2 separate regions of the Homo sapiens genome follow, and region 2 is linked to region 1. Evidence: fine-mapped expression QTL. Tissue or cell type: lung. Region 1 holds a variant in brackets; the other region holds the start of a gene. All regions are shown on one strand. Distances are between the middles of the regions.

Region 1 (5,224 bases):
AGATGTCCTACAGCAGATGAATGGACAAATAAACTGTGGTACATCCAGACAATGGGATATTATTCAGCACTAAAAATAAATGAACTATCAAGCTATAAAAAGACACAGAGCAACATTAAAGGTATATTATTAAGTGAAAGAAGCAAATCTGAAAAGGCTGCCTAGTGTATGATTCCCACTTTATGGCATTCTGAATAAAGCAAAACTATGGAGGCAGTAAAAAGATTGTAAGTTGCCAGGGAATTGGGGAAGGGAGGGATGAATAGGTAGAACACAGAAGATCTTTAGGGTAGTGAAACTCTTCTGTGTGATACTGTAAGGGTGGACACATATCATTTATTATGCATTTGTCAAAATACAGAATATACAACACAAAGAGTAAACTCTGGCTGGGCACAGTGGCTCATGCCTATAATTCCAGCACTTTGGGGGACTGAGGCAGGAGGATTGCTTGAGCCCATGAGTACAAAACCAGCCTGAGCAATATTAGTGAGACCTTGTCTCTCCAAAAAATTAAAATATTAGCCGAGTGTGATGGTGCTCAGTCCCAGCTACTTAGGAGGCTGAGGTGGGAGGGTTGCTTTGGCCCAGGAGGTCAAGGCTGTAGTGAGCTGAGATTGTGCCACTGTACTCCAGCCTGAGTGACAAAGCAAGACCCTGTCTCAAAAAAAAAAAAAAATGCTGTAAACACTAATGTAAAGTATGAACTTTGGTTGATAATGATGTGTCACTGTTGGTTCATCGATTGTAACAAATAAATATATTACATTGGTGTGGGACATTGATATGGGAGATGCTGGGCAGGGGAGGAGGAGGTATACTCTCTGTACTTTCTACCCAATTTTGATGTGAACTTAACACTGCTCTCAAAATAAAATATATTAATTTAATTATACACGTAATTTTTTTCTTTAAAAAAATCCATTTAGGCCAGGCGTGGTGGCTCATGCCTGTAATCCCAGCACTTTGGGAGGCCGGGGTGGGTGGATCACCTGAGATCAGGATTCAAGATCAGTCTGACCAACATGGTGAAACCCCATCTCTACTAAATACAAAAAAATTAGCTGGGTGTGATGGCGCATGCTTGTAATGCCAACTACTTGGGAGTCTGAGGCAGGAGAATCGATTGAACCAGGAGGCGGAGGTTGCAGTGAGCTGAGATTGTGCCATTGCACTGCAGCCTGGGCAACAAGCGTGAAATGCCATCTCAAAAAAAAAAAAAAACAATTTAATTTGCCATACTAAAAGTCTAAATAAGAAAGTGTAGCAGTCTTCCTGCTCCTTAGCTCAGCTAAGTCGGAGTTCTTGCCTCACAACCAGGAAGAATTAGGCACACGGACACCAGAGAGTGAGTGGAGTAGAATTTATTAAGCAAGAACTCTCAGTGGAGAGGGGACACAGTGGGATGGTTCCCCTACCTGAAGGTGGGAAGTCCCCTGTGTGGCTGGGTCTGGGGCCTTTTATGAACTTAGAATGGGGAGTGCATGCTGATTGGTTTGTGAGTATGCAAAAAAGGTTAAAGTGAAGACACCACTCTAAAGTAGGTATAACAATGTAAAAAACCAATTAGGAAAGGGTAGGTATATGTAAAATAGGTGAAGAGTGGGGACCAATCAGAGGAAAGCACACCAAATGGGAAGAAAAGTTCTCAATCCGGTTGGAGGATTGAACTTGTAGCCTGGCTTCCAGGCTTTCAACTGCCTTTGGCTTGGAGGTGGGGTTGTACTGGGGACCTGCCCCAATTTGCCTAGGCATTTGGCTGCCTCCTGTCACTATCATTTCGCCCCTCTGAAGAGGGGCCATTAGATATCATCGCCATTAGAATAGGGATGAAGTCCAAGGCCGGGCGTGGTGGCTCATACCTGTAATCCCAGCACATCGGGAGGCTGAGGCGGGCAGATCACAAGGTCAGGACAAGACCATCCTGGCTAACACGGTGAAACCCCATCTCTACTAAAAAATACAAAAAAAAAGCCGGGCTTGGTGGCGGGGGCCTGTAGTCCCAGCTACTCGGGAGGCTGAGGCAGGAGAATGGCATGAACCCGGGAGGTGGAGCTTGCAGTGAGCCGAGATCGAGCCACTGCACTCCAGCCTGGGCGACAGAGCGAGACTC[T/C]GTCTCAAAAAAAAAAAAAAAAAAAGAATACGGATGAAGACCAATCTTAACTGCTTCCTGCTGACAGGGGGTGCTGTTTTGCGAAAACGGCAGTCAGATCTCCCTCAGAGGTCTAAGGGTCCCCAGTAAAAGGGAGCAATTGTCCAAGCAATTGTCTCCGGTTACATGATCATTTGGAGTTTGATGGCCTCTAGGCAAGAATAAACAATTTGGTTTATTAGAAGACATGTATCAAATGAAACAAGGGGGTAAGGACAGCTCAAAAATCCCAGGGCTGCCAATACACTCAGATAGCTGGTGGCCATAGTTATGCCTGCTAAGATTTGGGTGCATGTTGGCTTTGGTTAGCTCCCTTGTTCTGATTTTCCCAAACAAAGAAACCTCCAGGTTATGAGCACCCCATTTACTTCTATCACCTGGCAGGATTTGCAGGAGAATTGCCCAGAATTAGAATATTGATCCAGATTTTTACATTACCCATCCCTTCTCTTTCTTCTGAGCTGCAGTGGGAGATCACTGGTTGGTTCACAGGAACAAGCAGGATTAGTCTAAAATGTGGGCAAAAACTTAAAAACAACTAATGAGATTAGAATTTAATGGCAAGTGTATGATAAGTTTGAAACATAATTTTTCTTTCTCCAGTCCTTATTTTTGTTAAAGACAAATCATGATAGGACTGAGTTGTTTGCAAAATAAACTTTAGTCTTATACTTGTCTCTTATACTGATTATTATCTATACTTATATTGATTATTTGCATAAAGTATAGCAAGAATAATTATTTTTCACATAGGCTTTTTTTTAAAAAAAAATTTTTTTTTTTGAGGCAGAGTCTCGCTCCGTCACCAGGCTGGAGTGCAGTGGCGCAATCTTGGCTCACTGCAACCTCCGCTTCCTGGGTTCAAGTGATTCTCCTGCCTCAGCCTCCCAAGTATCTGGGATTACAGGCGCCTGCCACCACGCCCAGCTAATTTTTGTATTTTTAGTAGAGATGGGGTTTCACCATGTTGGCCAGGGTGGTCTCAAACTCCTAATCTCAGGTGATCCACCTGCCTCAGCCTCCCAAAGTGCTGGGATTACAGGCGTGAGCCACCATGCCTGGCCCACATAGGCTTTTAAACTTGGCTTTGATGGAACTCTGTTCCACAAGGAAGCTCAGATAAGACCTTTTAAAGCCAAGTCCAGCCATGGGTTTATACCCTCATATACCTATGAGTTGGGTAAATTCCTCTCTTCTTGAGATCTCAAGATAACATGGGACTCCTGTGCCTGTTAGAAAGTGACCTTCTTTACTCAACACAGGTTAGGAACCCTGTACAGGGACAGTGTAGAGAAAGCATGTGACCAGTTTTCCCAGGGGGGTTTTATTGGCTCTGCAAGTCAAGCTTGATTCCCTAAAGGAAAGCACATCATTCCAGTCAAAGCCTTGGTGAAACAACTAGTTTCTCCAATTGTGTCCTGTTGCAAAAGAAAATGTTTCTTATTGCACTGACGCAAATTAATTACTATATTGCTGTAAGTTAAGAATACTCACAAATAGTTTCCAAATTATAGAGAAACCAGGCAGGGAGAAACAAATATGCTTCAAATTTTGTTCACAGGAGTATAATTTACTCAATTATTAAAGGCTGTAAATGTCTCAAAATAAAAGTTTCCTTGATTCTGAAAAACAAAACAAGGATCAGCAATGTCTTAAGCAAAAAGTTATAAAAAGATTACTTCAGTTTTCTGTTAGTTCAGTCAATTCAGTGAACCCTTATTCTGCTTGATATTCATGAACATTTTGGCTCTTCATGAGTCCTGTATGTTTTCCTCTATTCCAATGTTGCAATCTCCAAAGTTATCAGAAACCTGTATTTCAGACCACCTGTCAAAGTCCTATAGCTGATTATAAACCATCTTTTGAAAAGAATCAAAGCAAGACAACAATTGTCTGTGAATGACAAAATGTCCTCAGGGTAGTTAGGATCAAAAACACAATTGACAAAGAAATTTGGTTATTTCTGTGGTTGACAATAACTTAACATAGTAACCTTAATTATGATTGCTAGCACATACTCAGACATTAGAATTTTAGAAATCCCTTGCAATTCTGGAACATATGTTAACATTATTCACTAAAATATAACCTGAAGAGAATTAAACATTATTTTGGCAATGCTACATAAATAAACATGTCAAATAACCCTGTTTACCTAACTCTTTTGGATGCCCCAGGGGCCCTCTGTGGCACCCAAAAGTTAGGGTTGGAAAAGACAACCTTGAAACTGAAGTTTGATCTGGGGAAGGCTGTCAAATATGTTAAAGGTTTAAAACACCTGATATTATGAAATAGAATTCCGGATTACCATAAGTCATTTATTTAGCCAAAATGATGACTCAAAAAGTTTAAACAAGGCAAAAACCTTTACTCATTAAGAGGGAAGATTTAGTTTTCCAAACAATCTGTCCTTAATACTACATAAAAATCCTGTTCAAAGGAGAGAAAGCTAAATTTCACCTTTGCATTAGTCTATTATTAATGTCAACCCCAATTTTTTTAATGAAACCTTATAGATAATTCTATCCAATCTTAACCAGTTTGACCATGAGGTGAGATTCTTATAAGACTTTCATAACTCTTTATAAATTTTGTTAAAGAGTAGATCAATGCCTTAAGAAAATCTTGTGCTTTTATTCCAATGCTCAATTTGTGGAAAAACCCTATAATACCTTTTTGAAGTTAGTCAATATGTTCACACACACGATTTCTTTTGAAAGATTAATTTTTACAAACTTTCCACCACTTGTTTAAGCCTTTAGCTTTATCTTATCTAGTTTTTTAATCTTATCTAATTTAAAACAATCCTTTACCTCTCTAAACTAGGCAAAAATTTACATTCCCATGCCTTCTTATAATCTTTTACCAAAAACACATTTTATCTTCCTTACACACCTTGCATGTAAATCTATTTTCAGTAGTCTCAATTACATGTTGTAATGGCAACTCTTAGCAATTGATATAGAAAAAGCATTTGATGAAATTCAACATCCATCCATGGATAAAAAAAAACTCTCAGCGAACAAGTAACACAGAGAAACTTCTTCAACCTGATAAAGGACTTCGACAGAA
Region 2 (5,224 bases), 150 kb before region 1:
CTTAAAATCTACACTTGGTCCTGTCAGTCCTTACTCCCAGTCCCTGCACTGGCTGGCTGGCTGTCTCGTAGACAAACCAAAGTCTTCACAGCGGCCGTGCTACCTCTCAGACTGAAATACTGCCACTGTCTCCCTCCCTGTGCTACAGCCACAATGGCCCCAACCCATAAAGCACACTCCTGCCTCAGGGTCCTTGCAGTTGTTCTCTCTGTGTGGAAAATATTCCCCCAAATATCTGCATGCATTGCTTTCTCACATCCTTTAAGTTGCTGCTCAAATGTCACCTTATTAGTGAGACCCTCACTGAATATTCCATTTGAAGCAGGAAGCCTGCATGCTTCCTACCCGAAGCACGTTCTATCCCCGTCCCTGCATTAGTTTTGGCACAGCATTTCTCACCATCTGACATATTAGATACTTTACTTGTTTATTTATTGTCTAGCTCCCTCCACTAGAATCTAACTTCCATGAGGGCAGTTATTTTTACCTATTTTGTTCATTTCTGTAATTCTGGCACCTAGAAGAGCGCCTGGCACATCATAGGCACAACCTAAATATTTGTGGAAGGAAGGAGGAGGAAAGGAAGGACGGAAGGAAGGAGGGAAGAAAGGTCACTCCTAGGCATGAGATTCAGTTTCCCATGCCTGGAAGACACAGAACAGTTCAGATTGAAAGAGAACACAGAGTCAGTTGGAGCGATGATGCTGAAGTCAGCAGATGGGCTCTTTCTCCTCCACCTCAGGGTCCCAGGGAACGCCTCTTTGCTGAGAGGCACACAGAGACCATCGTGAAGGGGAAATTGAATGCTTCTTCCAGGAGAGCTCCACTTCCGTGGAGCTCAGACTCTGAGGGGTCAGGATCTCCTATGGGAGCAGTGGGGGATTGGAGGAGGTCCTGACCCCGTGGTACTGCCCAGCAGGAGGCCGAGTGTCACATTGTCCATGGGAGGGATGCAGCTTGTTCCCCAGCCTCTCCCTGTTTTGGAAGCTCTTCTCTGGCCCCTGCCAAGCTTTGTCTCCAGGACACAGTACTCAGTGTAGTGCTGAGGACAGACATAGAACTGTTTACCAATGCTGGCCACCTACTCCTGCTTATTTAGCCATGTAGCAGGCTTGCCAAACTAAAAGCTCATTGTTGGCCATTTGCAGTTGGTTTTGATCTTGCAAATTAATTTCTATTTCTGATGCCTGCTCTAGTTCCCATGTTTTCACATGCTTCCTGTGATACTCAGTCCCAGAGCTCTCTGTAAGGAAGAGGAGTTAGGAGGAAGAAAGGCTTTGGAGCTCTCAGGGGGCTTAGGGGTCATCTAGTCCAGGCCCATGCATTGCACCCTGAAGGATCTTTGGTGGGGGTTTGGGGCTCTGTTGGCTCTCTGAACTTTTTTGTGTATTTTTCCAGGGGCAAGAGTCCACAGCTGGCATTAGATTTTCCTAGGGGTCCATATCCACCAAAAGGTTAAGACCCTGATTTGGTTCAACTCCTCAATTTACAGATGAGAAAATGGGAGTGGATTGACTTGCCTAGGGCCACAGAACAGAGCTAAGATTTGAACTCATGACTTCTTTGTTCCAAGTAGTTAACAGATGCACATATATTTTGCAAAGTATTCAAAGGTGTTCTTATTGCCAGTGACTTCTGGGATACCACTGGGTTGAGCCACTGGGTGCTAGTGGCCCTGAGGCCTGCAGTGTACAGAGCTGCTGCACACGAGAGGCTTTGGGCTGCATTTGCGGGCCCGTGACTGGGGGCTGTCAGGAGCTGGCTGCAGCCAGAGGGGAGAAGCATGGGGGAGATGAGCACTCTCCCTTGTGCTTTTGGGAAGACCAGTAGAGAGAGCTGAGGCGTCAGCAGTCCTGGCTCTCATTCTCCTGCTGCCTGTCACTTATTCTCTGGGCCTTTTAAGGGAAGAAACTGGTTTTCTGCCTCCATCACCCCAGCTTAATATATTTACACTAACTTTTGCTCCCTTCATCTTCAACGGGACAAACTTGGCCAGCTCTCTGCCCTTGACATTCAAATAGTTTCTGGAAACCTGGCCTCTCCCATGAGGATAAGAGGCAGACAGAGTCTGCTGCACAACCCTATGGAGGTAGAACGCAGCCTTCACCTCTCACTTGGAAATATTTGATCATTTATTTACATCTTAGTTTGGCCTCTTCCAAGGCACCCTGGATCATCTCAGCAATCCTTTCAACTACCCTGATAGGTAGATGTTATTAATCACCATTTTACAGAGTGAAAATGGAAACTGAGCAGTCCAGTGACTTGTCCAAGGTCACAGGGCTGTTAGAGGCGGCACTAGGAATTGAGCCTAGAGCTTTGCCTCCAAGTCTAGTATATCTTTTCCCCTGCCTCTTCCTGCCCTAGGAGTCCACGTGTTTCTTGATTGTGGTCTTTTCATCCTCTTAAGACTTTCAGGTGAGCGCCACGAAGTGGTTAGCTACAGAGGCCTCAGCCAGGGCATTCAGGGATGGGCGGCAGGAAGCTCGGGGTTGGAATTCCTCACTTGGGAACGCCTCTTTGCTGAGAGGCACACAGAGACCATCGTGAAGGGGAAATTGAATGCTTCTCCCAGGAGAGCTCCACTTCCGTGGAGCTCAGACTCTGAGGGGTCAGGATCTCCTATGGGAGCAGTGGGGGATTGGAGGAGGTCCTGACCCCGTGGTACTGCCCAGCAGGAGGCCGAGTGTCACTGTGCTGCCCCACTCTTAGCCTCCCCATTGCCATAGCATTTTATTTCCCTGTTCCTTCAGCAGACAGTCACTATCTCTTACCCCTCAGTCCCTTCCTGACTGGCCATTAGTATATCAGGTCTTCCCAGTCCCTATGACAATTTTTTAAAAGGTAAAAATATAAACAGATCATTTTTAGTCACTGTAAAGTGCCACCAACACCATCACTGACTTCTCAGCTAAAACACAAAAACTTAGCAGGGACATTTGAGCAGCAAGTTAGACTCCATCAAGGACAGGGGATGGGGGCTCTCACGAATGATCTCCAGCCTAATCACCAATCCTATAGAGTCTTTAGCTCTGCAGAAAACCTGAGGCGCCGTTCAGGAAGGTGGCGATGTCTTCCCCAACTCCCACCACCCGGCCTCCCCACCCTCCCCACCTGCCATGGGTCACCTTCTATAGGGGGCAGGAGCTGGGGAGTGGGGCTGCCAGCCCCCTGTCCAGGTGAAGCCTGGGGTGGTTCAGCATCCGCTGGGCTGGCTTCTTTCACCTTCAGCTTGGATCCTGCGGCCACCTCCGGAGCTGTGGCTGCCTCCATGCTGGGCCTTCCCAGAGGCTGAGCTCCAGCTCTAGATTTTCACTGCTGGTGATGAGGGAGGGGCTGAGCACCTGCTCCCAGGCTGGCCTCCCGGGTCCCAGCCACAGGGTTACGTAACTGGGCTGGCCCTCCCCACTCAGCTACGCCCAGCAGAAAGGCTGAAGTAGGGGTTGGGGGAGAGAGGAGGATCAGACAGCAGCCCAGAATAGCCCCAGGAGGACTGAGGTGTCCCTGTTATCTCGGGAGAGAGATGACACCCCCCACAGCACCAGGGAGGGAGAGCTTGAACACACCATCCAAAAGGGACCTCTAATTTCTGTAGGGAGGGTTGAGTGACATCTCTGCTCCTGACCTCCAGTTCATCCCGTGGGGCATTCAGGTCCCAAAGAAGGGGCCCAGGATTAGCTGACTCACAGCAACGCCTGAACTGCTCTTTCTCCCTCTGCTCCCACATTCAATGAATTGTAAAGTCTTATCAACTCGACCTTTACAGGGCCTGTCCCATCCTCCCCCGCTCCCCGGGGGCAGCGGGCACAGCGCAGTGGTAGGTGGAGACTGCACTCGCACTGGCTGCCCAGGTGCCACTTGGGGCTCTGTCACCAACTAGCTGTGTGACTCACAACACCTCACAGTCTCTCTTCAGTCTGTTTCCTCATCTGTAAAATGGAGATAATTATAACCATAGGGTCGTTGTGAGGATTAAAGAGGTAATCTCTGTAAAGTGCTTAGCAGAGTGTAGCCGACTAAGTGCTTGATAAATGTAAGCTATTTTTAGGTCAGGCCAGCACTTCCCCCTTTGAGAGCTGTCAATGGCTGCCTTGCCTATTAGATGAAGTACAAATAAAGGGAGAGGCAGCAGTGGTGGAGGGAGGCGAGCTCAGAGACCTGCGTGTGACTTCTGGCTGTACCACTCACTCACCAGCTGGGACTCTGGGCAAATGGCCGACTCGGAGTCTCAAGTCCCAGTCTATGAAACAAGGGATGATGCCATGATTGTGTTGAGGATAAAATGATACAATCTATAGGAAAGTGGCCAGCTCACAGCAGGTGCTAGTCACATACTACAGGTCCTACATGATTTCCAGACTTAGCAAACCATCTTTCTATACGTGTTGTACATGCCATGGACACTGCCACCTATCATACTCCTACCTTCTTATCTCCAGAAGCCAGCATCCCTCTGCATTTTAAAATGCTTTAATTTTAGAGCAGTTTGAGAGTCACGGCAAAGCTGAGTGGAAAGTATAGGGTTCCCACAGCCCCCTACTCACCCCTGTATTTTTTTCATGGAAAAAAAATGGGTGCAGTTGAACAAATGGACTGACTTCTTACTCATTTTTGCCTTCAATTTTGGGGTAATTGGTAAGATCCCAGGAGCCTGTGTTATCTTGGGGTGACAGAAGCTCAGCCTCTTTGTAACTGGTATAGGAGCTAAGGCCCAGGACAATCTGTTTATTGGGGCCTTGGATGGCCTATGGGGTTGATTTGGTTGGCAGAAGACTGGGTTTTTGCCATATCAGAACTAGCTTGAAGGTCTTTCTGAACTATTTTTCCTGCTTGACCCAGCCAAGGCCCCGTAAGTGTGGACAGTCTCCTAGCCAGGAGACCCCAAATACACCCCCTTTTACACAACACGTAACCCATCTTTTGGTGAGGAAATTGGCCCAGGCTGAGTCTTAGCCCTTTGTTGGAGCGAAGGTGTAAAGAATCAACTTTAAGATGCAGGTTCCTAAGGTTTGCCCATCAGAAAGTCTAATTCAATAGGTCTGGGGTGCTATCCAGAAATCTGCACCTAAAAAAACCAACCTAGTGACTCTGGCGCAGGAAATCTTGGAATACCATGTTAGATAGAATTCCTTCAAATAAAACAACGATCTTAGATAATGTCCTGGGGTAGGAACTCGCCCATCAGATGGGCCTCAGGAACAAGGGCTTTGCCCTGTCATCTTCA

Evidence for each region. PIP is the estimated chance that this variant, and not a neighbour inherited with it, causes the effect. A credible set is the group of variants that fine-mapping cannot tell apart.
Region 2: it holds the start of MYBPHL, and the variant in region 1 is the best candidate, but not a certain one, in a credible set for the expression of MYBPHL in lung (TOPMed, PIP 0.55).

Annotation. Positions count from the first base shown.
Region 1 is chr1:109,450,988-109,456,211 of GRCh38, forward strand. No RefSeq gene overlaps it. Among named protein-coding and RNA genes, the nearest start is that of SYPL2, 13 kb to the right of the region's middle. RefSeq lists a silencer at 3,666-3,866. The variant T/C (reference allele first, on the strand shown) is at 2,114.
Region 2 is chr1:109,303,719-109,308,942 of GRCh38, forward strand. It overlaps MYBPHL (myosin binding protein H like), which reads right to left and starts at 3,293. Exons shown (of 9, transcript NM_001010985.3): 1 at 3,129-3,293. The coding sequence starts at 3,273. RefSeq lists enhancers at 2,811-3,550, 3,551-4,289.